Linked DNA regions of Homo sapiens. The protein of the gene in region 1 interacts with the protein of each later gene in a biochemical or structural test. Each region holds a gene or a part of one and is shown on either strand. Other genes may lie near its edges. The genes, in order: TYRP1, PDZRN4, PTPN3, MAGI1, ARHGAP21, PDZRN3 and FRMPD3.

The links.
Region 2: the proteins of TYRP1 (region 1) and PDZRN4 interact in a test that uses a peptide from one of them, tested with the Homo sapiens proteins (one large-scale study listed by IntAct).
Region 3: the proteins of TYRP1 (region 1) and PTPN3 interact in a test that uses a peptide from one of them, tested with the Homo sapiens proteins (one large-scale study listed by IntAct).
Region 4: the proteins of TYRP1 (region 1) and MAGI1 interact in a test that uses a peptide from one of them, tested with the Homo sapiens proteins (one large-scale study listed by IntAct).
Region 5: the proteins of TYRP1 (region 1) and ARHGAP21 interact in a test that uses a peptide from one of them, tested with the Homo sapiens proteins (one large-scale study listed by IntAct).
Region 6: the proteins of TYRP1 (region 1) and PDZRN3 interact in a test that uses a peptide from one of them, tested with the Homo sapiens proteins (one large-scale study listed by IntAct).
Region 7: the proteins of TYRP1 (region 1) and FRMPD3 interact in a test that uses a peptide from one of them, tested with the Homo sapiens proteins (one large-scale study listed by IntAct).

The regions. Positions count from the first base shown.
Region 1 is NC_000009.12:12,696,385-12,699,884, forward strand, and holds part of TYRP1 (5,6-dihydroxyindole-2-carboxylic acid oxidase precursor), read left to right. Parts: intron 1-2,066; coding exon 2,067-2,271; intron 2,272-3,500. UniProt on the Homo sapiens protein: Plays a role in melanin biosynthesis. Catalyzes the oxidation of 5,6-dihydroxyindole-2-carboxylic acid (DHICA) into indole-5,6-quinone-2-carboxylic acid in the presence of bound Cu(2+) ions, but not in the presence of Zn(2+).
Region 2 is NC_000012.12:41,194,820-41,198,319, reverse strand, and holds part of PDZRN4 (PDZ domain-containing RING finger protein 4), read right to left. Parts: intron 1-3,500.
Region 3 is NC_000009.12:109,421,808-109,425,307, forward strand, and holds part of PTPN3 (tyrosine-protein phosphatase non-receptor type 3), read right to left. Parts: intron 1,046-3,500; coding exon 911-1,045; intron 1-910.
Region 4 is NC_000003.12:66,028,919-66,032,418, reverse strand, and holds part of MAGI1 (membrane-associated guanylate kinase, WW and PDZ domain-containing protein 1), read left to right. Parts: intron 1-3,500. UniProt on the Homo sapiens protein: Plays a role in coupling actin fibers to cell junctions in endothelial cells, via its interaction with AMOTL2 and CDH5. May regulate acid-induced ASIC3 currents by modulating its expression at the cell surface.
Region 5 is NC_000010.11:24,717,388-24,720,887, forward strand, and holds part of ARHGAP21 (rho GTPase-activating protein 21), read right to left. Parts: intron 1-3,500. UniProt on the Homo sapiens protein: Functions as a GTPase-activating protein (GAP) for RHOA and CDC42. Downstream partner of ARF1 which may control Golgi apparatus structure and function. Also required for CTNNA1 recruitment to adherens junctions.
Region 6 is NC_000003.12:73,401,442-73,404,941, reverse strand, and holds part of PDZRN3 (E3 ubiquitin-protein ligase PDZRN3), read left to right. Parts: intron 1-546; coding exon 547-794; intron 795-3,500. UniProt on the Homo sapiens protein: E3 ubiquitin-protein ligase. Plays an important role in regulating the surface level of MUSK on myotubes. Mediates the ubiquitination of MUSK, promoting its endocytosis and lysosomal degradation. Might contribute to terminal myogenic differentiation.
Region 7 is NC_000023.11:107,557,652-107,561,151, forward strand, and holds part of FRMPD3 (FERM and PDZ domain-containing protein 3), read left to right. Parts: intron 1-2,605; coding exon 2,606-2,742; intron 2,743-3,075; coding exon 3,076-3,202; intron 3,203-3,500.

The DNA.
Region 1 (3,500 bases):
CTTACAGAAGAAACCTATTAAAATATCACATCACTATATAAGAGGACAGATATTTTAATTTGCTTGGCTATAGTAATCACTTTACTATGTATATTTATATCAAAGCACCATGTTGTACACCTAAAATATGTAAAATTTGAAAAAAAGTTGAAAAATATCAAAATAATTATATCAGTCAGGCAATATTTTTAGTGAAAAGACATTGGCTTTTTATTTGGCACAAAGTGAACCTCAACTCAAGCAGTTATTTCATGCTTATTTTCTAAGCAGATAAGCTTCAAACATATTAAAGTATCTAGTTACGTAGATTCTTTACTCTTATTTCTTTTACCAACTGCTCTGTTCCTTGAGAAAAATATGGAAATTTTAAAATAAAAGTTTAAGTTGTTAGATCTCAACTAGGAAATCCACAAAGTAAACCTGTTTTCTATGTGAAATAACAGCAATGAATCTCCCCCTTCAAGTTAAGATATAAAAATTAAGCTAAAAATATCTGAAGAAGGGAAAGGCGTTTAGATTCATTTATTAATTTGCAGAATGCTGTGCCAGCATTATTCCGAGAAAAAATAAATGGTTAGAAGAGAGAGAATTAATGCACTAACATACAGGATAAAATATTCTTTTGAAAGTACACTATCCATTTGCAGTTTGAGAGTGATTAAATGAATTCATCTGATACTCTGAACGTCATATTTTATAGCTCTGATTGCAAGTAAGACATTTAGTAGATTATAGATAAATCTGTCATTTGTAATTGACTGCAGATCTTCATGCCTTCAAGTCATTTTCTCATGGGCACACCAAAATGAAAGGGCAGGTGGAAAGTATCTAAAAGCTTCAATTTTGCCTGTGTAAACTTCAACCTCTATGACTTACATTTTAAAGACCCAACAGCACAAGGGATGCAACAAATTAGAATTTAAATGTAATTCGTGGTTGAAATGCCACATGAATATGCTCTGGCTCCCAAATGTCAGTTGCTGAACCACAAACCGATTCTTAATGATCCCTTGGAAGCTGTCACTAATTTTTGTGAACCACAATGATGGCTTCTAAAGGAGGACTACAAACCCCTGGAGACCAATAACTGGGGATAACTTGGAAAGCTTTTGGCTCTCTAAAACACCCAAGGATAAGAAAATGCTTCCTAGGAAGGGATTTAAAGTGAAAAAGTAGAAATATACTGAGTGCTTGAGAGATAAGATAAAACAATTGCAATCCCTACATTTAAATCCCATACCATAAATAGAACTTCTCAAGGCACCAAAGAAATGAGAAATAACAAGGAAATGTATGTTTTAAAGAACCGAATGAAATAAGCATGTGATCTTGAGGCCAGCATTTTTAAAAATGTGAGATCAGCTTTGAATGGAAACTAGGTCTCTGATCTAAAAAACAATGGGCAGAAAGATTTACTCTGCTTCTGTTTAGCATTTTTATCAGTATAAATTTAGGCAGAAGCCTGAGTCTTAAAAGTTTAGATTCTAAGGCAGGGTTCCCTAAATAAAACACCTTCCGTGCTCAGTGTGAAAGAGTCCATTGGCCTGTTGCCAAACCAGAATCTAAATGCCTAGTCATTCAAATTAAATTTAAAAACAGAAGCAAAACAAAAATTAGCACTCCACAAAACATATTTTAAGGCTGGATCTGGCTCCAGACTAAGAGTTAATGATGCTTGAATTAAAGATAGGAAAATGGAAGAAGGTGGAAATGCCAAGAAGTGGATGTTGTTATTGATAACTTTTTTGTATAACCAATATAAATGTAATTATCTGCCTAAAAAAGAAAAAGAAGACCCTTTATCCCTTTAAATCATTTTCAGAAATGTCTGCATAATGAGTTGAGTTTCATTCCCTCTAATGCCTAAATGACACCTTGTAATAAATTACCAGCTTTGTTAAATAAGGTTTTAACTCCTCTGGGCCCCTCAGACACCGTTGATATACTAACCAGTACCTTATTGTCTGAAGAGAGCTAATAGAAATAGACTGTCAGAGAGTAGACCAAACAGAAATGAATAATTGTAAACAGAAGCAGAGAGTATTAATGTGGTTTCTGTGATCTAGGAAATGTTGCAAGAGCCTTCTTTCTCCCTTCCTTACTGGAATTTTGCAACGGGGAAAAATGTCTGTGATATCTGCACGGATGACTTGATGGGATCCAGAAGCAACTTTGATTCCACTCTAATAAGCCCAAACTCTGTCTTTTCTCAATGGCGAGTGGTCTGTGACTCCTTGGAAGATTATGATACCCTGGGAACACTTTGTAACAGTAAGTTCCAAATGATAGCTTGGAGTCAGAATTTCTTTTTAGATAAAGAGATTAAATATGTTGCCTGAAAGGCCCTTCATTCTACTAGAGAATTCAGACTAAAATCTACTTTTATTATAGAGTAACAGTGTACCAGGCATTCATTAAACACCTAGAATGTTCAAGGTACTCTAGAAGTTGCTCCAGGGGAAACAGAAAGTGCCTACACATTTTTACACTGCCTTTCTTGAGTAGTTTGGTCAATATCTTGCTAACTTTCTTATTTTGGAAATGTCTAGTTGTATAAACTAATCCTCTTAGTTTTCTTAGCACTACTTAGAAGTCATGTGTCTTGTGTTGGAATTTCACAGAAAATGTTTCCTAAGAAAATGTGAAAAATAGGCAAAAAGTTGGAAATGCCCTGGGAAGAAAAAAAAGAAAAGAAGCAAACCAAATGTATGCTTGCAGTTATAAAGTTAGAAAACAAAAGCTGATATGGGGGATAGTTTTCAGAAAAGGAGTATATTGTACTGATGTCTGCCCCCTAGCTGCTTTCCAGCTCTTCCAAAGTGAACACAGTAAGAGTACGCCTAATCAGTTGTCCCAGCATCCTTTCTCCAGTGATCTGAATGCCACCACTGTCACAGGTCAAGTTTCTGCCACATGTAGATCTCTTCCTGAGCTTTCTGTTCTCCTCCTTGGATCATATTATTATTTGTGCCTGTGGTAGTAACACAAGGTTTAATTATTAGACACCCCCTACCTCATCTTATTTTTCTTCTTCAGGCATGTATGGCTCTTTTGATTGTTCTTCCATATAAAAATAAGAGTTATGTGAATTTGTTTTCTTATTATAATCACCACATACTTATTCTACATGTATTATTTTATGCATCAAGTATTATTTTATGAACTTAAATAAGAAATACTCTAAATAAATCAGCAGGAATTAGATACATATTTTCACCATTAGATTATTTAGCAATGTATAGGAATAAGAGAAGTGATAATATATGAAAATTTCCTCTGTAGAAGTTTAAAACTTAGAATAAATTTGTATTTGTTTGGTATGCTGAATGCATGATCCCACCTTGTGGCAGAGAACTGAAATTGAGGATCAGGATGTCTGCAGATGCCAAAATGTTTATACTCTTTGTGACCAGGCCATTGTATTTTGGCCTGAGAGTTTTCTAGACATTTCCCAATCACCCTGATGATTGGATACCAAAATAAAACACAGTTTAAATGAG
Region 2 (3,500 bases), on another chromosome or scaffold:
GAAGAAAGTGTAAACAAAGAGCCATGAATGATTATCCACCCTTTCCCACTCTGGAGTTATGGTTGCATTGCCTGCTATCAGTATCATAGAAATAAGAGAGGAGACTGGGCACTATGGCTCACGCCTGTAATCCCAGCATTTCAGGAGGTCAAGGTGGACAGGTCGCTTGAGCCCAGGAGTTCAAGACCAGCCTGGGCAGCATGGTGAAACCCCATCTCTACAGAAAATTTTTAAAAAATTAGCCAGGTGAGGTGGGGTGCACCTGTAGTCCCAGCTACTTGGGAGGCTTAGGCTGGAGGATACCTTGAGTCCCAGAGGTAGAGGCTGCAGTGAGCTGTGATCATGCCACTGCATTCCAGCCTAGGTGACAGAGCAAGATCCTGTCTCCAAAAAAAAAAACCCAGAAAAAACAAGGAAAAGAAGAAGAAGAAGAAAGAAAGAAAGAATAGAGGAATCGATGCTAAAAGCAACAGTGAACTTTGTTTCTCAACTCCCTCCCACATACCACTTAGGCATCCTAACATGATGATAACTACAGCAATGGTCATGCCTTCTTCCAGAATTGTGCCCAACCTTCGATAGGATCAGGGATTTTCTGTGATTCCTTTGATTCTTGAAAGAATGAAAAACAGCATGCTTTTATTCAGCTGTATACTGTGGTGAATTCTTGGTGTATGTGAATTTCTGTGATGTTTCAAAATGCCTTCAACAATATCTTCTGCCTTTTCAGTCTCCAGTGATATTTTGACACCTAGTGTAACTCAACTATCACAACTGATTTTTTAAAATTTACAAGCATAAATAGTTTAACAAATATGGATGTGGAAATAGCTAGAAACTGGTTAACATAGTTGCTTGTGGAGACTGACTCCAAAAATTAACTTGCCTTATATTATGTGAAAAATATGACATAGGTTTACCTAATGACAGTAATTTTTTATTCTTTTATTATTCTTGAATTTTATCAATAGAATGCAAATATTAAAAAATAATACGTGTTACTAGCCTTTGTTGAACTGTGGCAAAACTATTATAACTAATATATTATTTATTAGAGTTTATAAAATCTTTTTAACCACCAACAGAACAAAACCTTTAACATGTCTACTTCCTCTTCAAGTGAATAACTTTGGAAAATTTTATTATTTTTTAAAAACAATTCATAAACTTGTATGTGTGCATCAAGCAATTAGCTACAGAAAATATTTTTGAGCATATCTTGACTATATATAAACCATAGAATCTCTTATTGTTTTTATTTTTTATTTCAGTTATATATCAGTAAATTCAAAGCATTTAGTAATGTGTCAGATTGTGCATAAGTCATACGGATAATTTTATAATATATGAACTAGTTTGTACCCTTTACACTGTTAACAAACTTACTTGTTGCACCAGGTTTAAATCAGCATGACCATTTGAAATTCAAAAATTGAGCCATTAAATTTGTTCAATGAACAAATCTTTGATCACAAAACAGAAAATAAATTATTATCTTTACTTTAAAAATCTGTTTTAAAATATGCATCTGCACATTTTAAATTGATAGATTTCTTCTCAATTTCCAATTAGCTAAAAACTGCTTAAAGTTGATTGATATCATAATGACAGAGAAACTAAAATAATGATAAGCATCAAATATTTCTAACTTTAATGATTACATAGGGATCTTTTACAACACACACCATATGCACAAGAAAAAACACACTTCTTGTTTAACTAGATATTAAAGTCACACAAATATCTATTCACTCAAAAAGCCGATAGCATCACTGAACAACTAAGCAAGAGCAATTTATTTCTAATAATCTTCTTTCTAAAATATTTCATGCTATTTAACACACAACATTCTAGAAATATGCACCTCATCTAACCCATTTCTTAACTGCAAATGTGGTCACATTGATCCATTCTACAACTATAGCATATATACATAAAATCAATGTACCCTGGTATAAAAGACACATTGAAAAATCTATATCATTGAGACAAATTTCAAGCTCTAGTCATTAACTGCTAATATATGCAAATGAAAGTGAATAATAATACCGCAGCTAGTTAAATTTCATTTGAATTTCTGTGGTTGACCTCCTTACTTTTTATCTTACAGGGTTTAAATAAGGTTAATCTGACATATATTAGTAACAGTACTATGTAGGTGTCTAGATGCACTTGATTTTCAACCATAGTTTTATAAAATTACCTCTTTAAAAAAAACAGTAGGTTTGTAACCAAATTGTTGTATGACAATATAAAAAATTCTTTTTCTTTTCTAATGTAACATTAATGAAGCATACATAATATTGTCATCTAGCTAGAATAAGTTATTTTTTAAATTGCCAATACGTATTTCTGTTGTGTCTATGTGTTTGTGTGGGTGTAACAATATATGTATTCAGTTCCATCAGTTCTTCTAATAATATCAAATGTAGGAATTTATTTTCCATTGGTAACTGGACAACTTAATATGTTTTTGAGATAATGCAGAAAGTAATAGGGACAATCTTCTGTTTAAAGTATGTTGCCCTTTAGATCATACTGTGCACATTCTAACTTTAGAAGCTACAGCATGTGAATGTTTCCACTAGACAAATTGTCAAGATGAACTGGATAGCAACAGCAAAAGTAGGTCTGCACTTTCTCGGCAACAAAACTGGAAGAATAAAAATCTTGATACAAGAGACCTCTTTAGATATAAATCAAAGTTTTTTTTTTGGCAAAAGATAACTCTTCTTTTTTTTCTAAATTTTGTAGTCGGCTAATTTATAAATGTTGTGTTCTTTTTTCCCAAAACAGCAAACTATTGGGTCTTCTATATTCTTCACTCTTACTCTATGTCGATTCATTAAAAATTCAACTTTGTTTAGTGCACAGAGGATGAATGAAAAGCTAAAACTTTATTTAAAATTTAATATAGAAAATCTGCCTCCATTCTGATAGTTTATATAAGTATTCAGAGAGATAGCACTAGTGATTATATAGCCTAGAGTGAACAGAATTTTTAAAAACAATAGTGGAGTCAAGTAAACCTTCCAAATTCCTATTTATAGCTTCACTAATCCATTGGAAATAAACTCACTGATAAAAGTAACTTAACCATTTTTGGCAACAAAAAGTAATATTATCTTAACCAGTTAATAAAATGTCAAAAGGACAGAGATGGCAGATGGCAGGGACATAAAATTTCATTAACATAACCCAATTTTACTAGCATATAGGTGCTCACTTTATCACCCCCGAATACAACAATACAGTTAAAACATACAAAGAGTTCTCACCAGGTTTTCACAACAAAGAGAAAAAAAGGTATTTCTCTTTTTCTTTCATATAAAAGATAATGACAGGAACAAGGTAGCCATATTACACCAAGAAATATTAAAAGTATTGTATAATTTATTCCAAACTCTACATATAAAATATTAATTACAAATTTAAAATATAATCATAGTTCCTCATCAGAAATGTTCCTCAACAGAGATTTATCATCCTTTTTTGAAATG
Region 3 (3,500 bases), about 97 Mb from region 1:
CATCTCCTCTGTCTGCCTGTCTCCCAGTTTCTCTTAGGCTTAGCAGATCCTGGATCAGGTATTTACAGCCACGCACTCTTACTCCAGTGTGGAGCTGGGGGCAATGATTCCCTGCTAGGTTTCCCCTCTGGCCCCTAGCCTTTTTGGAGGTATTCACAAAAATGGTGTGATGTCTTTGAGGACCATTATAATAAGATAATGATAATTCCACCTGACTCTTTTAAAAGCTTACTACGTACTTGTACATTATTATTTCATTTGCGGTAGTTTTTATCATCTTTTTAGATATGGGGAAACTGAGGCTACAGAGGTAAAGAAACTTGTTAATTAACAGAAGGGCCAAAACCTGAGTTTAGGTCTTTCTGCTACAAACCCAGTGCCCTTCTCACTTTACCAAACGACCACCTATTTCTTTTTAAGCTGAGTCCATCCTCTTAAGTTGGCCTGCTACTTACTGATGTGCATTTGCTTCTGCTGCTGAAGGTCATACATCCTTACATCATTTACATCACGTACCTGCGTTAGTTTTCCCTAAAGTTTATTTTGTGGGATATTAATGGAAAACATGAATTAAGTAAAGCTAACCGTACTTTTTTATTATTGGACGTCTCAGAGTGTTTAATATGCTAATGTGTGCTGTGATTCCAAAGGAGGCCTTTCAGCAGGCTCGAGTTTCCCAAACTATTTAGATTGAATAAGTTTTTTTAAAAAGAGCATCTCAGCATTATACACGATGGAAAACATTTAGCTAGACTTGTGTACTTCATGAAAACAGTTACTTCTGCCAAGAGCCTAAAATGCAAATTGTAGGTCATCTATCTTTAGGAGTTTATAAGTTGAGTTTTTATTTTTAAAAGAGATAAAGTGTCTACTGTTGGGTAGTACAAAAAAAAAAAAAAGGAGGACATACCAGTTGGGAGTAATGGGAGGGGAACGAGAAGGCAGACTCTTGGTTTCTAAGTGCTCCACTGATAAGGATCTCCGCATGGCTGGGTTCCACACCATCCCGCCAATCACCTTTTTGCAATATTGGTTATTTACCGACCTGAAAAACCAGATGCAGGTTCACTTTCTACACTGACGTTCAACAGGAAAGAAATTACTGCATGTGTGAAACAGTCTACACATGCTTCTTGTCTGAAGGACGGCAGGTTAATGCCAAGGTTATGGGGAGTAGAGGGAGACAGCTCAAAAGCGATTCCTGTCTGTCCTGGAATTTCCTTATGTGATTTCTTCTCTTCGGGTGAAAATCCTTTCTTGTCCTCACTACTCAAGCAACAAAGCTGTTTCCAGAATATAACCAAACCTAACCAGATTAGAAGGAATTCCAGGATCACACAGAAATACAGCTCCAGTGATTTCAAGGAATTCTTATTTTATTCACACTGGCCTAAGTAAAAATATTAACCATTTTTTCAGGTGCTCTTCATCATCCTAGCTGGCAGGAGCTGTCACTATAAATCACTGGTAAATCTTTGAGAGAGAATCTGAAAATGCGCTTAGAAAGTAGTTTCAAACTGGGCACAGTGGCTCATGCCTGCAATCCCAGCATTTTGGGAGGCTGAGGCGGGTGGATCACTTGAGGTCAGGAGTTCAAGACCAGCCTGGCCAACATGGCAAAACCCTACCTCTACTAAAAATACAAAAAATTAGCCAGGTATAGTGGCGCATGCCTATAATTCCAGCTACTTGGGAGGCTGAGGCATGAGAACCCCCTGAATCCCCGAGACAGAGGTTGCAGCGAGCCAAGATCGCACCACTGCACTCCAGTCTGGGGAACACAGTAAGACTCTGTCTCCAAAAACAAAAAATTATACAGAGTTTCAGGCTACGTTCTTTGAAATGTGCTACCCTGAAGGTTACTTTTGAATTTTATTTATACCTAGAGAATTTAAATCTTAGCTATCTAGACCCCTCAGAGAATGAATTATTTGAGAGAATAGAGCATGAAGCCTGTCACCCTGTTAAAGGGTGACAACTTTGGTTCTGGCATCTCTAAATTTTAAACTAGGATTTAATGTCTTATGAAAACATTCTACACATTTCCTTGTGACATGACATCAACCAACCAACAAAAACAAAACAGAACAAAGAACAAACAAAAGAACATAAACAATATGAATCGCCCTGTAGCACATCATGTACTAATTCACATTAAGAAATGCTGTTGTCACCCTGATCAAAATGCTCACAACAGCATCACTGGGAGACTCTTTCCTCTGAGGCAGGCCTACATCAGAAACCACACTGCCAGTGATGAAGAGCACAGGATCAAAACAAGGGGAGCAAACTGCCCAACTCCAAGGTTTAATGTGTCATGGGTTATTAATAGGGACTCTCTGAAAAAAAAGTGTTCCATTGTCCCATAAGCTTGGAAAATAACCCAACAAATTTCTTTTTATGTGGAACCTTTCAGAAGGCCCAATAAGCAGATGTGTATCTGTATCTCTAGGGGCTGGGCAAGTCATGTGACCCTTCTAAGCCTCAGTGTCCTCATCTGTAAAATGGAGGTAATGAGACTTGAAATTCACCAGTATGCTGAAGCTGGCACAGGTAGTAAAAGAACTGCTGACTTGTCCTCCCAAGCCATCCTCCCAACCCAAATGATCCCCTGTGGCAGATTAAAGATGACTGCAAGTTCTTTGAGTCTTGCATCTGGGTTGGCTTGTGACTGCTTTCAGCAACAGAGTCGCTGTGCCAGTGCCAGGTCTCACCCTTAAGAAGGCTGAACGGTTCTGCCTTTCGCTCCTGGAACCCTGAGTGTCCATGTAAGAAATTCAACCACCCTCCTGGAGTATCCAGATGGGGATGCTAAGGAGTCCAGGTGAGTCCAGCCTTCCAACCATTCCATCAAGACACCAGGTATGCAAGAGAAGTTATCTTGGATCCTCTGGCCACATTCACTGAGAAATCCCTATCTACACCACACAGAGCAGAAGAGGCCTCTGGCCAAGCCCTTCTAGGATTCCTGACTCACAAAGTCATGAGATATAACAGAATGGGTGTTGCTTTCAGTCACCAAAATAGGGGTATTTTCTTGTGCCACAATACAAGACCAGAACCCAGCCCTGCTGGCATTGGATGCATGCAGATGACAAAGCTTTGCAGATGAAGAAATAGAAGCAACAAATTAAAGCTCAAGTGACAGAGGCAGGATTTGAACCCAGGCAGCTCAGCAACAGAGGGCATGGTTTCAGTTGCCTCCCCATTCCTTCTCTCATCTGGCCTGAGGATCAGGCCCAACCTAAGTCAATGATATAATCCAGTAAGTTATTTTCATGGCTTGCTCAACAGTAGATCTACTGAATGTATACAAATACTAAACAGTATTATAAGAGCTAAAAACTTAATATATTCACTCTTGGTTCATCAGAAGCTGAGAGATAGCATTTAGCACCACAAATAGTATCACTGATACTAACAGAAATTAGCTACTTATTCAGTTTACAAGTTCCCTAATGATTATCAATGTATTAGGAAAGTAACTGGAACAGTCTGAT
Region 4 (3,500 bases), on another chromosome or scaffold:
GAAACCCTGTCTCTACTAAAAAAAAAAAAAAAACAAAAAAATTAGCCGGGCGTGGTGGTGGGCGCCTGTAATCCCAGCCACTAGGGAGGCTGAGGCAGAGAATTGCTTGAACCCGGGAGGCTGAGGTTGCAGTGAGCTGAGATCGCGCCACTGCACTCCAGCCTGGGTGACAGAGTGAGACTCATCTCAAAAAAAAGACCCAGCAAATAATAGGTGCTCACTAAAATTGGTTGGATGCCTGAATGACTATTCCATTGTTTCGGAAGGTAAGTGCAACTAGGCCACTTGCAACATCTTTCCTCCCTTTCTCTCGATTTGTCTTTTACTTCTTGTTTAGGATCCAGAGGTCTTCACTTTCTCGTAATCAGATCTTCCAATTAGCAGGCTTTCTGTGTCTAATAATTTATACTGGGCTATAAATGACTGACAAGGATTAATGAATCCTATTCAAGTATTTCTGCCTGTTGACTCTAACTGAAGTTTAACAAGTGAGCCTCTAAACGTGAAATTTCAGATGTTCAGCAGGCAGGATGATGAGGATTTTTTTTGTTGATGTGGGACCTGTGTCCTCATGCCTAAAAATGATTCTTTCCCTCCGTTTTCTTGCAGCATTGTCCCTGTGTACTTTTTTTTTTGGCTAATAGCAAATCAGATCTTTGCTACAGAACACAATCCAATTTTAGCCCTCTCGCTCTTAAATTGTACTTTGTATTTATGTCTTTTTTTTTTTAACTTAAACTTTCAAAAATCAACCTGTTTTTGTTCTTGGTGCCAAAAGACCACTCTTGGAAGGATATTTTTAGGTTACACTGTGGAACACTGTACAGGTTTTACAAAAAATGAAGCAAGGACGTACAACGCACTTGTCCATCGTTTCCAGTGGCCACCCCTTGTCATTGGCTGTGTTATTTAAAAATAGATTAACTTGACCTTCTGTGGCAATGGCATACAGTTGGCTCACCGTGTTTCTTGGCATTCATTACCCAGCTGGTTTTAGATGGCAGAATTGATGATATCCACCAAGGGGAATTAAGTGGTTTATAAGAGAAAACATTCTGACATCTCCTTACCACAAGGGTTTACATGAAGGATGTTGCTTTGTAAACGAGGGTTATTTAATGCAAAGCACCACTCTCTGGTGTTAGTGGCCCTTTCCTTGAGTTTGTATATACAAGTAACAGGATATACTGATTTTGTATACACTGAGAATAAAGGCTGTCAAATTCGTTAAGGGCTGACATTCACATCCTAAAAAAGTAGGTTACTGCATGCCTGCCTGTCTTTTTGCAGCTCATATGTGAGATCTGTAACCTTGAAAAATCCCTAGTACACACTGGTGCATTGCTAGACTTCTCCCCTATGGAGGTCGGCATCGATGTAGTATTTCTTATGAATTCATTTTGTTGTTTCAACAGATGTCAAGGTTGGTCCTATCATATTGACTCTGCTTTCTAGTTAAGTGTCCTGTGGAGGGTCTAATGTGTTCTGGATGTCAACTTTTCCGAAGGCATGTAGCAAAATTAGAAAATGTAATTTGAGCAGTGTCTTTTATGATTAAATAGAAATCTTCTCTTTTTATGGCTCAGTAATTACATAATGGAATAATCCATTATTAATCATTTCTGTAGTCTCTGTATCTGAGTGAAAGCCGAAGTCCTTATAGTGACTTCCAAGGCTGCCCGTGACCTGTCCTAAGGATATTACTTCTCTTTCTCTGTCCTGCCTGCTAGTGCCCACCTGATCATCTTACAGGCTTGCTATCTCTTGAGCTTCAAGTCTTTCTGAAATGTCACCTGCCCAGTGAGGCCTCTTGTGAGCACATTATTGAAAACCATAACTCCACTGCCACGTGTCATTCCCTGTTCCCCCTCTCAGCTTTATTTTACTCCATAGTATGTAGATCGCTTCACCACAAGTAAATTTCTTATTTTACCTCTTTCTCTAGAATGTAAGCTCTGAGATGGCAGGAATGTTGTCTTGTTCTCCCACAGTATCCCCAGTAGCAAAAACAGTGCATGGTGCCTAGTACTTGCTTGGGTATTTGTTAAATGTTTACAGTCAAGTTTAGAACTAGAATAAATCTCTTCTGAGGTCAGTTACCTCTGAAAATGTAGATATATAGAAGTCCCTGAAAATTTAGGTGACTGATGATGGATCACATTAAAGTTGGTTAGAGTTTAACATTTACAGTCAATGGCTGGGGCTAAAATAGAGCTTAGCCGATTGATCCAGGAATATTCTTAAAGTCAGTGAACATTGCTGGCCTGCTTCAGTTGGTCTTAGTATTATGGGTTTACAAGTAAGAACATGTGGGTCCTTGGTTTCTTGTCAAGAAGGGGAGGGAAGAGTCCACTGGAGTCTCCTTGGAGTCAGAGATAAGGTCACATTTCCAATTTTAGGTTTCCCTGCATGGAAGAGGTCCTTGACTTTAAAATTAATTGAGTGTCCTGATTTTCAGAGGTTACTTTGATTTGGGAAATGACGGTAACAAGGGGTACCAGGTGGCTGATCCAAACAGGAGAGCTGAGGCTACTAGAGTCACCATGAAGATCTTGTCGAGTTAGGGATAGGTCTGTGCACAGCATCCCTTACTTAGCCAAGTCATTGGCCTCAGTCCACTTTCAGTCCTGTGTGCTCCCCACCAACATGAATCCCTAGAAGGCAACTCTAGGTCAGGATTTGAATGCACAGGGCTTATCTGGGAGGTGCTCCCAGGAAGTTCCAGTAGGGCAAGGAAGAGGTGAGACCAGTGAGTCAAGAAGGCCAATGGAGATGCTTTAAAGAGCAAGTCACCACTGTGTGTCTAAGGCAGCCCCATGCTGAGTGTGTCATGGAACTTTGCAGACTCTCTCACCCCTAAACAGACTGAGAGGTTCTTCTGGCTGTGTGTATAGACTTTTTCTGTTACCATCTCCAGTGTCATGAAGATGAGTTCCATAAGATAATTACATTCTCATGGCTAAGGTATCAACCCCACCATTACTGTGGATGGAGGCATTTGTGTGTCTGTTTAATGGGCCACAGTTATGCTTCTTACAATAAGGATAATCTTTACTCCTTTATGAGACAAGACTCGAGGCTCTCTTTATGGACAGGGGCATGATGGTGCAATTAAAAGGCGATCGTGCCCTGATTATAAGCCATGTTTCAAAATTACTGCTATATATAGTGTCATCAGGACCGTAGTACTGCTCATAAAATGATCCACAAATAGCAATTTACTGATGTGTCATAGAGTCAGATTTTGGACCCAAGGTTGGCTTGGGTGAAGAGGCAGGCTTTACACTTTATGAGCTGGGTGTTCTGGGGCAAGATGCTGAACCTCTTTGTGCCAGGTTTCCCCCTCGGAAAATGGGGATAATAATGATACCTACTCTCTAGGGTTGTTGGAAAAGTAGAAAGTAAACCACATGACACAGGGCTTGGCACATAGTGAGTGCTCAATAAATGTTGGCTTCTGTAATTGTTTGAATGCTCCCCATTTGAAAGCCCTTGGGAGA
Region 5 (3,500 bases), on another chromosome or scaffold:
ACTGCAATCCAAGGGGGATATAGATAAACTTGTAACTGGTATTCCTGAAAGTGCAGGGTGTTTTGAGAGAATACACTAGGGGCAACTGAAAGAGTCTTGCGGGTCAGGGAAGGCTTTCCTGAGGAAGCAGTATTGAAGAAAAGACCAGTATGATGAGTAAAAATCAGCCATGGAGCAGAGGGAGGAGGAACAGGGGACAGTAGAGGGAAGGGTAGAAGAAAGGACCTGACAGGAGTTCAATCTAGGAAGAACAAAAAGAAGTAACAAGTGAGACAGAAGCGCGGACCAAATTACCAAAGTCCTTTCAGACTTCACAGAGGTCTGAATTTTATTTCAAAGGAAATGGGAAGACAGAAAATTGTCTTATAGGAGGTAATGTAACGATCAGCTGGAGTACAGTGGCGCGATTTTGGCTACCTGCAACCTCTGCCTTCCGGGTTCAAGGATTCTCATACCTCAGCCTCCAAACAGTTGGGACTACAGGTGTGCGCCACCACGCCCAGCTAATTTTTGTATTTTTAGTAGGGACCGGGTTTCACCATGTTGCTCAGGCTGGTGTACAACTCCTGACCTCAGGTCATCTGCCCATCAGGAGGATCATTCTGATTACAGTAGGGACAGAGCTGCGGAAGGGGACAAGGCTAAGTTATTGGGAAACTCCGTAGGGAATCTGTTTCTGTGGTTCATCAGTGAGATGCAGCTGACCTGAACTCAGGTGGGGGTAGTGGGTATTGGGAATGTGGACTCCACAAGACTTTGCATATGAGGAATGACGAGACGGAAGAGTGAGAATGCTGACCTAGTTTTTGACTTGGACCAATAAATAGATGGTAGTGCTACTCAGCGAAAGAAGGTGCACAGGAAGAGGGAGAGTCAGCGGTAGCGGTGAAATCTGATGAGTTTGCAATGCCTGGGGAATATCCCCCAAAAGTGTTCGGTAAATAGGCAACTGGCTGAAAAGGTCTAGAGATCAACCATAAAGCCTGAGATAGAGGGGTAGATACGGAGTCACCAGCACACAGGAGAGTGCAAAATAAAACCCAGGGAGTGAGAAAGAGAATACAGGAATGGAAAGGCCTTGGCTCTGGATAAAACCAACAATGGGGCAAGAAGAGGAAGAAAAACCCTACAAAAGAGGCAGATAGAGAGGGAGATAGAAAGGAGGGGAGGAGAAGAGAGAGCGCCTGAGAAGGAACTAGGGAGTCTGGGATGAAAGCAAAAGCAAACTGTCCAGCATTCCAGAAGGAAGAGTCAACACATGGATTCATACAAACTCGTACCCAGAAAAATGTCTTATTGTATTGTTTACAGTATTTCAAAATCAACCAACAAGTGTATTTCATCAGCCATAATACATTTCAGTCATAGAATAATCTTAGCCTAGGTCAAGAAGCAAAACAAAAATAAGTTCATTTGCATTAGTAAAAAGTTTAATAATAAAGTGACAAAAATTCTATTACTGGACAAGAGTATGGACTACAGATAAAAAATGAAATAAATGTTAGAAATGGAAAAAAAATCATGTGGTTAAGAAAGCTGAGGGAAAGTTTTCTCTTCTTTGGCTTAAAAAAAAAGTTAAACCTTGAAAGATGAAGCTATATGGATATGAAAAGGGGTGATAATATCATAGAGGATTCAACAGAAGAATCTATATAAAGTGATTTTGTGAGCAAAGTTACTCAAGGATTGGTGTCAGAAGACTTCACGGACTACACACACACACACACACACACACACACACACCCCAAAAATCACTTAAGAGGTTCAGAGTGAGTGATTTCAAGTTTTAAAAATACACCTTGAGATGTATAAAAGTATATAAATTCGTGTGAGTACCATCTGGACCATCCTTACTGTATAATGCCAAGACATATTCTACTGAACTGTCCTAATTTCTTATTTGAAGAGGGCTGTTTATTTGTTTTGAGGCTTCCAATATATCCTGGGGGTGGGGAGGCCTAAATGTATATCATATATCAACACAATAAAATTGCAATGCTTAAGATGAACAAGAAATCTCTGATTGTTTTTCAACAAAGCACAAGGCCTTATTCAGAGAAGGTGGAGTTGGCTAATTAGATAAAGCATGAAACAGAGACTCCTGTTAATTCATTACATTGATTTCTTCTGTCCTATAAAGTTAGGTTTTCTTGGCTGATTAACAGCATTACTATTAAGACACACATGCTCATCTCTTTGTTAGTTAAAAACACAATAATAAATGTAGTATCCAAACACATTATTGATTTTTAAAATTTTTTAAAGAGTGATAGTACCACTGTGGAATGTAGTGCTTCTAATAAAATTGACGACAAAAATTAAATGCAATGTTCAAAAACCTAAATATCAGCCCAAAGTATTTCATTAGCAACTAACTCCCTATTACTAAAAAATATTCACAAGATTTAATGTGTATCAGAAGCATCAATCACAGATTAAAACACGTCACAACTAAATACAGGCAATAATTACACAAGTTCTCTTCACTCCCAACCCTGAGGTTTTAAAATGTTTTCTGACAACATATATCCCCTTTATTTCCACTTCCACATAGAATCTAGGCAAAATACCTATTCTTTAGAAAGTCAAATAATATTGTAGTTTAATACCAAACCTAAATACTGTATATATATTTCACATAAGCAAAACACAGGTGATATTGTGTTTTCTTCATTGCTAAACTTAAAAACAAGATAGCCATGCTGCCAGCAGTAAGGTCCAAATGAAAACAAATTTCACAGCCGTTAAAAAATACATAACTGTCATTGTTAATAAAAGCCAAGTGTGCAACAAACTGGAAATACTGCTTGCTAGCCAAGGACAAGATGTGTCTAAATTCTTGGTTTCAGGACATCTCTTAAATGACCAAAAAAAAAAAAAAAAATCAAATAACATTAGTTCTTGCAAACAGAATGCAAATACAATGCTAATTAAAGTATTCACAAGACAATGACAAATAAGGCTTCAGGACCACAATACATATTATTATGTAACTGCAATACACATTAAGCAATCACCAGGTTGCAGGTAGGCCTTCCAAAAGGAGTTATTATGGTTTACCGTGATCAGAGGATTGTGGTGTTCCACTTAATCATGCTTTTGCCTGCAAGCAGGTGTTTACAGATGTCAAAAAGTAAAACACTGATTCTAAATGTAAACCTACAGTTCTGCCTAATAAATTGTACAGTAATAGCACACTGTACCTCACAACGTTTTCTGCATAAACTTTCTAATTCGACATGAAGTAAGCTGCATGAAGCAAGTTTCTCCGCTTGCTTTATGAACCAAAATTTAACTTCTGATTCATTTTTATTAAAATGCCAAAACTCACACACTTAGAGCCAGCCCTTGTTTCAAGGACTATGAAGTTAAAATTTAACATCCGGTGCAAAAGAAAGTGAGACAGTGAATGAGGGTTCATTTGGGTATGTTATTGTCTAAAGTAATCCTCAACCCTTCAATGAAAACATAGGCATCTCAAAAGTAAAATTTAAAGGATA
Region 6 (3,500 bases), on another chromosome or scaffold:
GAATTCCTTCTCCATAATAACTTGCCATATGCCGCTATGGCCTGAACTGTCATTTACTTAATATTTTCAATGGACTTTTTAAAGAGCGAAAGGATTATTAAGAGGAAACTTCATATTACTTCCATGAAGGGAAGACTGGTATCATCTGACACAAACTGGAAAAATACACACTATTAAAACATAACAATGTAATGAATTTCTAGTTAGCTATTATTGCCTGATAAAGGCTCGGAGCCTGAGGCTGGCCTTTTCTTTCACAGGCAAGATTAGCAAGTGATGAAATTGTGTTAAAGACATTCCACGGGGAAGCTAAGCCTTCCCGCTGTGAGATTTATTATTGCATGCCAGATCTGAATACCTCCAAACTCACTCTCTTTCCACCAGGCATTCTTCGGGAAACCTAAACACAGAGAACTGAAGTTCTCTGACACCACCACCTGCTTCTTTCTTTTAGCTGCTTACACATGAAAGCAGGCAATTCATGTATTTGTCCTTCCGTTTTCTGCTTTATTCTAACCTTGTCCCACCCTAAATATTTTTCCACAGGTCAACGGCAGAGACTTATCCAGAGCAACTCATGACCAGGCTGTGGAAGCTTTCAAGACAGCCAAGGAGCCCATAGTGGTGCAGGTGTTGAGAAGAACACCAAGGACCAAAATGTTCACGCCTCCATCAGAGTCTCAGCTGGTGGACACGGGAACCCAAACCGACATCACCTTTGAACATATCATGGCCCTCACTAAGATGTCCTCTCCCAGCCCACCCGTGCTGGATCCCTATCTCTTGCCAGAGGAGTAAGTAACCTAATCTTGAACCCCTAATGCATTAAGAAGTATTTCCAAGTTGGTTTCTTTCTCTTCTATGTGGTGAAAAAAATTAATGCACCCTATAGTTTTCCTCCAAGTTGCCCATGTTTAACTTTATTGTTTATAGAGGCAATAAATCGAATCCTGCTCAAAACCGCTCCGACATATTAATTACTTTATTATAACCCTGGAGCGGACTTATTCAAATTATATCCTAAGAACAGAATTACTTACAAATGTTGTAAAAGTTGTTTCAGAATAAAATGTAATCACCCCAAATGGTAATTTGAAGATCCTGCAGTTATTACTAGGGAATGTTGATCATTCTTTTAAATAGACAAAAAAGTAAGTTGTGTGTGTCAAGAGAGCCCTGGAGGTTGTGCCTTCTGCTTTCTTGGGTCTCATTTCAAGCCTGGATCCATGTAATAAGCCCGCACATGCCTCATCTAAGTACTGCATCAACCAATTAAATAACAGCTGCAACTCAGCACGCCACATGGATTTCTTTACACACACCTCTTCTCTCAACTTATTTCTGCCAGCGATAAAGAGTCCTTCAGAGGCTTCAAGTCAGACAAACCTGATGCTCAAAGTGATTTCTAGTTGTGGAACTTGGGTAACTTACTTTGTTTTGTGGGGCTGTATTTTTCCTATATTAAAATGGAGATAACAGTATCAATCTCTTATCATTGAAGGATTAAATGAAACAATATGTGGGAAGTGCTCATGGGGCATATGGTAAGCACTCAGTAAATGGTACCAGCGATCACCGTTAATTTAGTGGGTGATGTAAAATATTCAGGAAAAAATGAAGAGCAAGACACTTTCTGTGATAGACTGCTGGCCCCCAAGGTGTCCAGTTCGACATAGCTTTTAACATAGCTTTTCAAGGCCAGGCGTGGTGGCTCACACCTGTAATCCCAGCACTTCGGGAGGCCGAGGCAGGTGGATCACAAGTTCAGGAGATTGAGACCATCCTGGTTAACACGGTGAAACCCCGTCTCTACTAAAAATACAAAAAACAATTAGCCAGGTGTGGTGGCGGTCACCTGTAGTCCCAGCTACTCGGGAGGCTGAGGCAGGAGAATGGCGTGAACCCGGGAGGCGGAGCTTGCAGTGAGCCGAGATCATGCCACTGCACTCCAGCCTGGGCAACAGAGCGAGACTCCGTCTCAAAAAAAAAAAAAAAAAAAAGCTTTTCATGTGTGACTTTGCACATCTGAGGACACAGCCTCTCCAGCTGATGTTAGGGTCGCCCCTGTGTTTTCTCATCTCAGCTCCATCTCGGATCAGATCATTGACTTGATACATTATTTCAAAGGGCATTTTCACCTCTTACAGGAGAATCCACTGGGTAATACCTGTTGGATTCCTACTAGTAACTCAGTAGCTGGAGTGAGCACATGTTTCCTATGGTTCAGTCAAGTTCTGGATAAAGGCTTGCCCTTCATCCCTTGGTCTTAGTGGCTAGCTGTCATTGGAACCCAGGACTAATTCCCCAGGCTTGACAGAGTAGGTTTGGCAGCAGCTGGTAGCATAAAGACAGAGGACAGGGCATCCGTCTCACATTCACTCACAGTGTGCACATGTGCAAAGAACTATTATCTATCTCCTTCATTTCTCATGACTGTCCCTTTATACAGATGAGGAACTGCAGACTCACCAGGTTCCACTGAGCTGATGGAAAGGCAGGTCAGTCAGACCCCGACTCCCAGCTCTGAACCACAGTACCCTGTAGTGACCCATTCCATCCTCTGGAACAACTGGCTGATTCACTGAGTATGATGATCCAGACCATTTATCTGACGTTACAGACCAAACTGCCTCACATTATTGATGAAGCCTTTAAGGCTACTTCTGACTCTTAAATGTTGACCTGTCACAGTGATGGGCCTTTTAGAAGCTAAACCTGTAATTTCCTCTTAGGTCTAGTTAACATGACATGACTTATCCCCTGGGGGCGACTTGAGAAATGTCAGAAGAGTCCAGAGGTCAGGCCTCTTCAGGTTCTGGCTGCAAGGTCAGACAACAGCAAGAGCGTGTGTCGGGACTGAATGGGGAATGTTAAGTTGATGCTTGAAAGCCCAGACCTTCCAACAGTATCCTCAGTACTAAAAGCCCTTTAAGTGCAGGCAGTATATTTGCCTGATGGGTCCAGAAAATTGAAAGCCAGCCCTTGTTTGAATGGCCACTCATGTCTGATCTGTTGTTTCAAAACTAAGTGCCTGGGAGGGAAGACTAGAGCCCATTGATTGCTGTGCTGACCTTTGAGGACGTGAAGGTTTGGGTCCCCAGCCAACAATCAGAGGCTGAAGCTTTGCATCTGGCACCGTGGACTGTTAAGCTCCTTTCAAAGCTGCTGATGGAGTATGTTATGATTCCCACTGCCTTGGCTCCTTGAGGTTGCATTAATGACGTTTCCAAAGATGTCGTGAGTTCTGTGGACTGTGTTTTGCATATGTTGTCCTAGGGAAACATAAGCTTCCAGTCTCCTAGCAGAGTGAATGTGTGTGTACTCATTATATGTAAACATATACACACAGATGCACTTATGCCTACATGTTTGTATGTGCATTTCAACCATGTAAGTGCATACTGTACGTTTGTGATATCAAACATATTATTGTGGGTAACATTCAAAAAGACACGGTCCTAGGTAACAGCAGAACAGTTTCATTCTCAGCCTTTTGAACT
Region 7 (3,500 bases), on another chromosome or scaffold:
CCATCAAAGTTTCGTGTGTGTGTGTGTGTGTGTGTGTGTGTGTTTTTTTTTGCATATGGATATCCAATTGTTATAGCACCTTTTGTTGAGAAGAGTATCCTTCCTCCACTGAATTGCCTTTGTACTTTTGTTAAAAATCTGTTGTCTATATATATATATATATATATATATATATATATATATATATATAGATCTATTCCTGTACTCTCTATTCTGATCTGTTGGTCTACTTGTCTGTCGTTATGTCAACATCACACTCTTGATTACTGGAGCTTTATAATAATTCTTGAAATCAGGAAGTATTTGTTCTCCAACTTTGTTCTTTTTCAAAGTTGGTTTGGCTATTATAGGTCCTTTGCATTTTCATGTGAATTTTAGAATCACCATGATAATTTCTACCAAAACCTGCTGTGATTTGGATTAGGATTGTGTTGAAACTATAGATCAATTTGGGGACAATTGACATCCTAACAATATTGAGCCTTCCAATCCCTGAACACAGTATTTCTACATTTAATTATACCTTCTATAATTTTCCTCAGCAGTATTTTGTAGTTTTCAGTATATAGGTCTTTCATATGTTTTGTCAGATTTGTCCCTAATTATTTCATATTTTTTGATGCTATTGTAAATGATTTTGATTTTAATTCCAATTTTCAATTATTTCTTGCTAGCATATACAAATAGAGTTGGGGTTGGGCATGTTGGCTCACGTCTGTAATTGCAGCACTTTGGGAGACTGAAGCAGGAAGATCACTTGAGCTCAGGAGTTCAAGACCAGCCTGGGCAACATAGTGAGACCCCCATCTCTATACAAAAAGATTTATTTTTAAAAGAATAGAAATACAATTGATTTTTGTGTATTGATCTTATATCCTGAAACCTTGGTAAACTCACTACATTTGGCCCTTCATATCTACAGGTTCCATATTTGTGGATTTTGAAAATATTCAAAAACAATAAAAAATAACAGTGCAATAATAAAAAATACAAAATTTAAAAATATAATATAATAACTATTTGCATAGCATTTTTATTTTAGTTTAGTTTGAGACAGAGTCTCGCTCTGTCACCCAGGCTAGAGTGCAGTGCCATGATCTCGGCTCACTGCAACCTCCACCTCCCAGGTTCAAACAATTCTCCTGCCTCAGCTTCCCAAGTAGCTGGGACTATAGACATGCACCACCACGCCCAGCTAATTTTTGTATTTCTTAATAGAGACAGGGTTTCACCATGTTGGCCAGGCTGGTCTCAAACTCCTGACCTCAAGTGATTCACCTGCCTCAACCTCCCAAAGTGCTGTGACTTTAGGCATGAGCCACAGCATCTGGCCTACATAGCACTATAGCAATTTTTTTTTTTTTTTGAGATGGAGTTTCGCTCTCGGCTCATTGGAACCTCCACCTCCTGAGTTCAAGTGATTCTCCTGCCTCAGCCTCTCAAGTAGCTGGGATTACAGGCGCCCGCCACCATGCCCAGCTAATTTTTGTATTTTTAGTAGAGACGGGGTTTCACCATGTTGTCCAGGCTGGTCTTGAACTCCTGATCTCAGGTAATCCACCAGTCTCCGCCTCCCAAAGTGCTGTGATTACAGGCATGAGCCATTGCACCTGGCCTTATATAGCATTTTAATTGTATTAGGCATTATAAGTAATCTAGAGGTGATAGAGGTATACAGGAGGATTTGCATAGGTTACATGCAAATACCACAGCATTTTATATAAAGGACTTAAGCATCCACAAATTTCAGTATCCATGGGGGTCCTGGAAGAAATCCTCCATGGATACCAAGGGAAAACTGTAGTTGTAGTAGTTTTTTGTAATAGAATCCACTGAATTTTCTACATAGATGATCATTGATGATGTATTCCTTTTCCACTCTCTCCTATATTATAGTGATATCACTGTGGCTTCCTAGTCCCTTAGTCCATACTGGTTCCACTTTAACAAAATGGGAAACTGGTCTAACCAAGGCTGACTCATTGATAGCTGGGGCTGTGACCCTCAGGGTTTGGGGGTTGTCATACCCTTGGCCAGTAGTTCCTGGAGACCTCCTCTAGGATAGCATAGGGAAGATTGACTCATCAACATTTTTGTCCTTCAGACACCAAGAAGAAGAATGCCTCCCCCATCCCTGCAATTCAGCTCTCACCCTGGGCTTCTGGGCCAGGGCCCTGTGGAGAGTCCCTCCCAGTATCTTTCTCCCCTTGTTTCCATCTGAGCTAGTAAAGGAGCCTTGTATGGCTTGGGGGTGAGTATAACCCCCATGAAAAAAAGTAGGAAAGTCTCTTATAAAAGGAGGAAAGAAAGGGAGTGGTGCCATGTCTCACTTTTGCAGTGAACTGGACTGTCTGCTTGTACCTTGCCATTGTGTGCCCCTGTCACTGAGAAGGCTATCTAGTATCTGCTGAATAAAGTGAACAGTGTCTATGAGACCTGAGCCTCCTCTGTTGTCTCTTCTCCAAGGGGAGCTCCTTCCTCTGTCCCTTGATCTAGCATGCCTTACTGATACTATGAGTATTGTCTGGGATGTAAGGGAGTAGATCAGGGGGTGGGGAAGGAATGTCTCCTTCAGCTGATAGGTTTGGACTGCCCTCTCTCACAGAGTCGGAATGATGTTATTCGAGAACGCTTTGGAATGGATCCCAAGCCAGAGATGCTTTTGGGCCTTGCTGCGCTCCACATCTATATCACTGTCTCAGCCACTCGACCTAGTCAGAAGATCTCGCTCAAGAATGTGGAGTGAGTTGTGCTGCGGCCCGTTGGGATGGGGGGCGAATAGTTGCGTAGGGAAAAGGTACACTGGTTGAGCTATGCTATGCTTTTCAGAAATGTAGGACATGGGATGGGAGTGAGAATTGGAGTCCCTCATATCTAGACTATGAAGCCCTAGAGCTACAGCTTCTACTAGGGAGCTGTGGCTAATGTTATTTTCCTATCCCTGTCCCTTTTTCTTTCTCCCAGTCTCTATTCCTCCATCTCTACCTCTCAGATTCAGTCAATTTCTGTCTTACCATCTTCTCTCTGTCCCACTTTGCCTCTCTCACTAATCTCTTACTTTTCTTCTGCTTTTAGGAAGGAGTGGGGCCTGGAACCCTTTCTTCCCCCCTCCCTCCTGCAGGTCATCAAAGAGAAGAACCTCCGGAAATCTCTCTCTCAGCAACTGAAGGCTCACCAAACACATCCTTCCTGCGGCACCAAGGTATCCAGAGTAGACCACTGGGCATGGTGCTCCAGGCACTACTGGCCACAGGGAGATCCTGGGTGGTTTCCCAGCAGAGTCTGGTCCTCTAGGGATCCTCACCACTGCTTTTGACTCAGGTGCACATACGGCTTGGCCAGGTGTGGGGCAGTTGTGGAGAGGAGTCTTCCCCAAGCCTGAGCATCCCAAAGAGACAGCTGAGTGACACATCACTGAGAGAGCTCAGGGTCCTCAAAGCAAAGGGGCCAAGATGCAGGAGATAATTCTCAGGTCCTTTTCACCAATTAGTCAGTGCCGA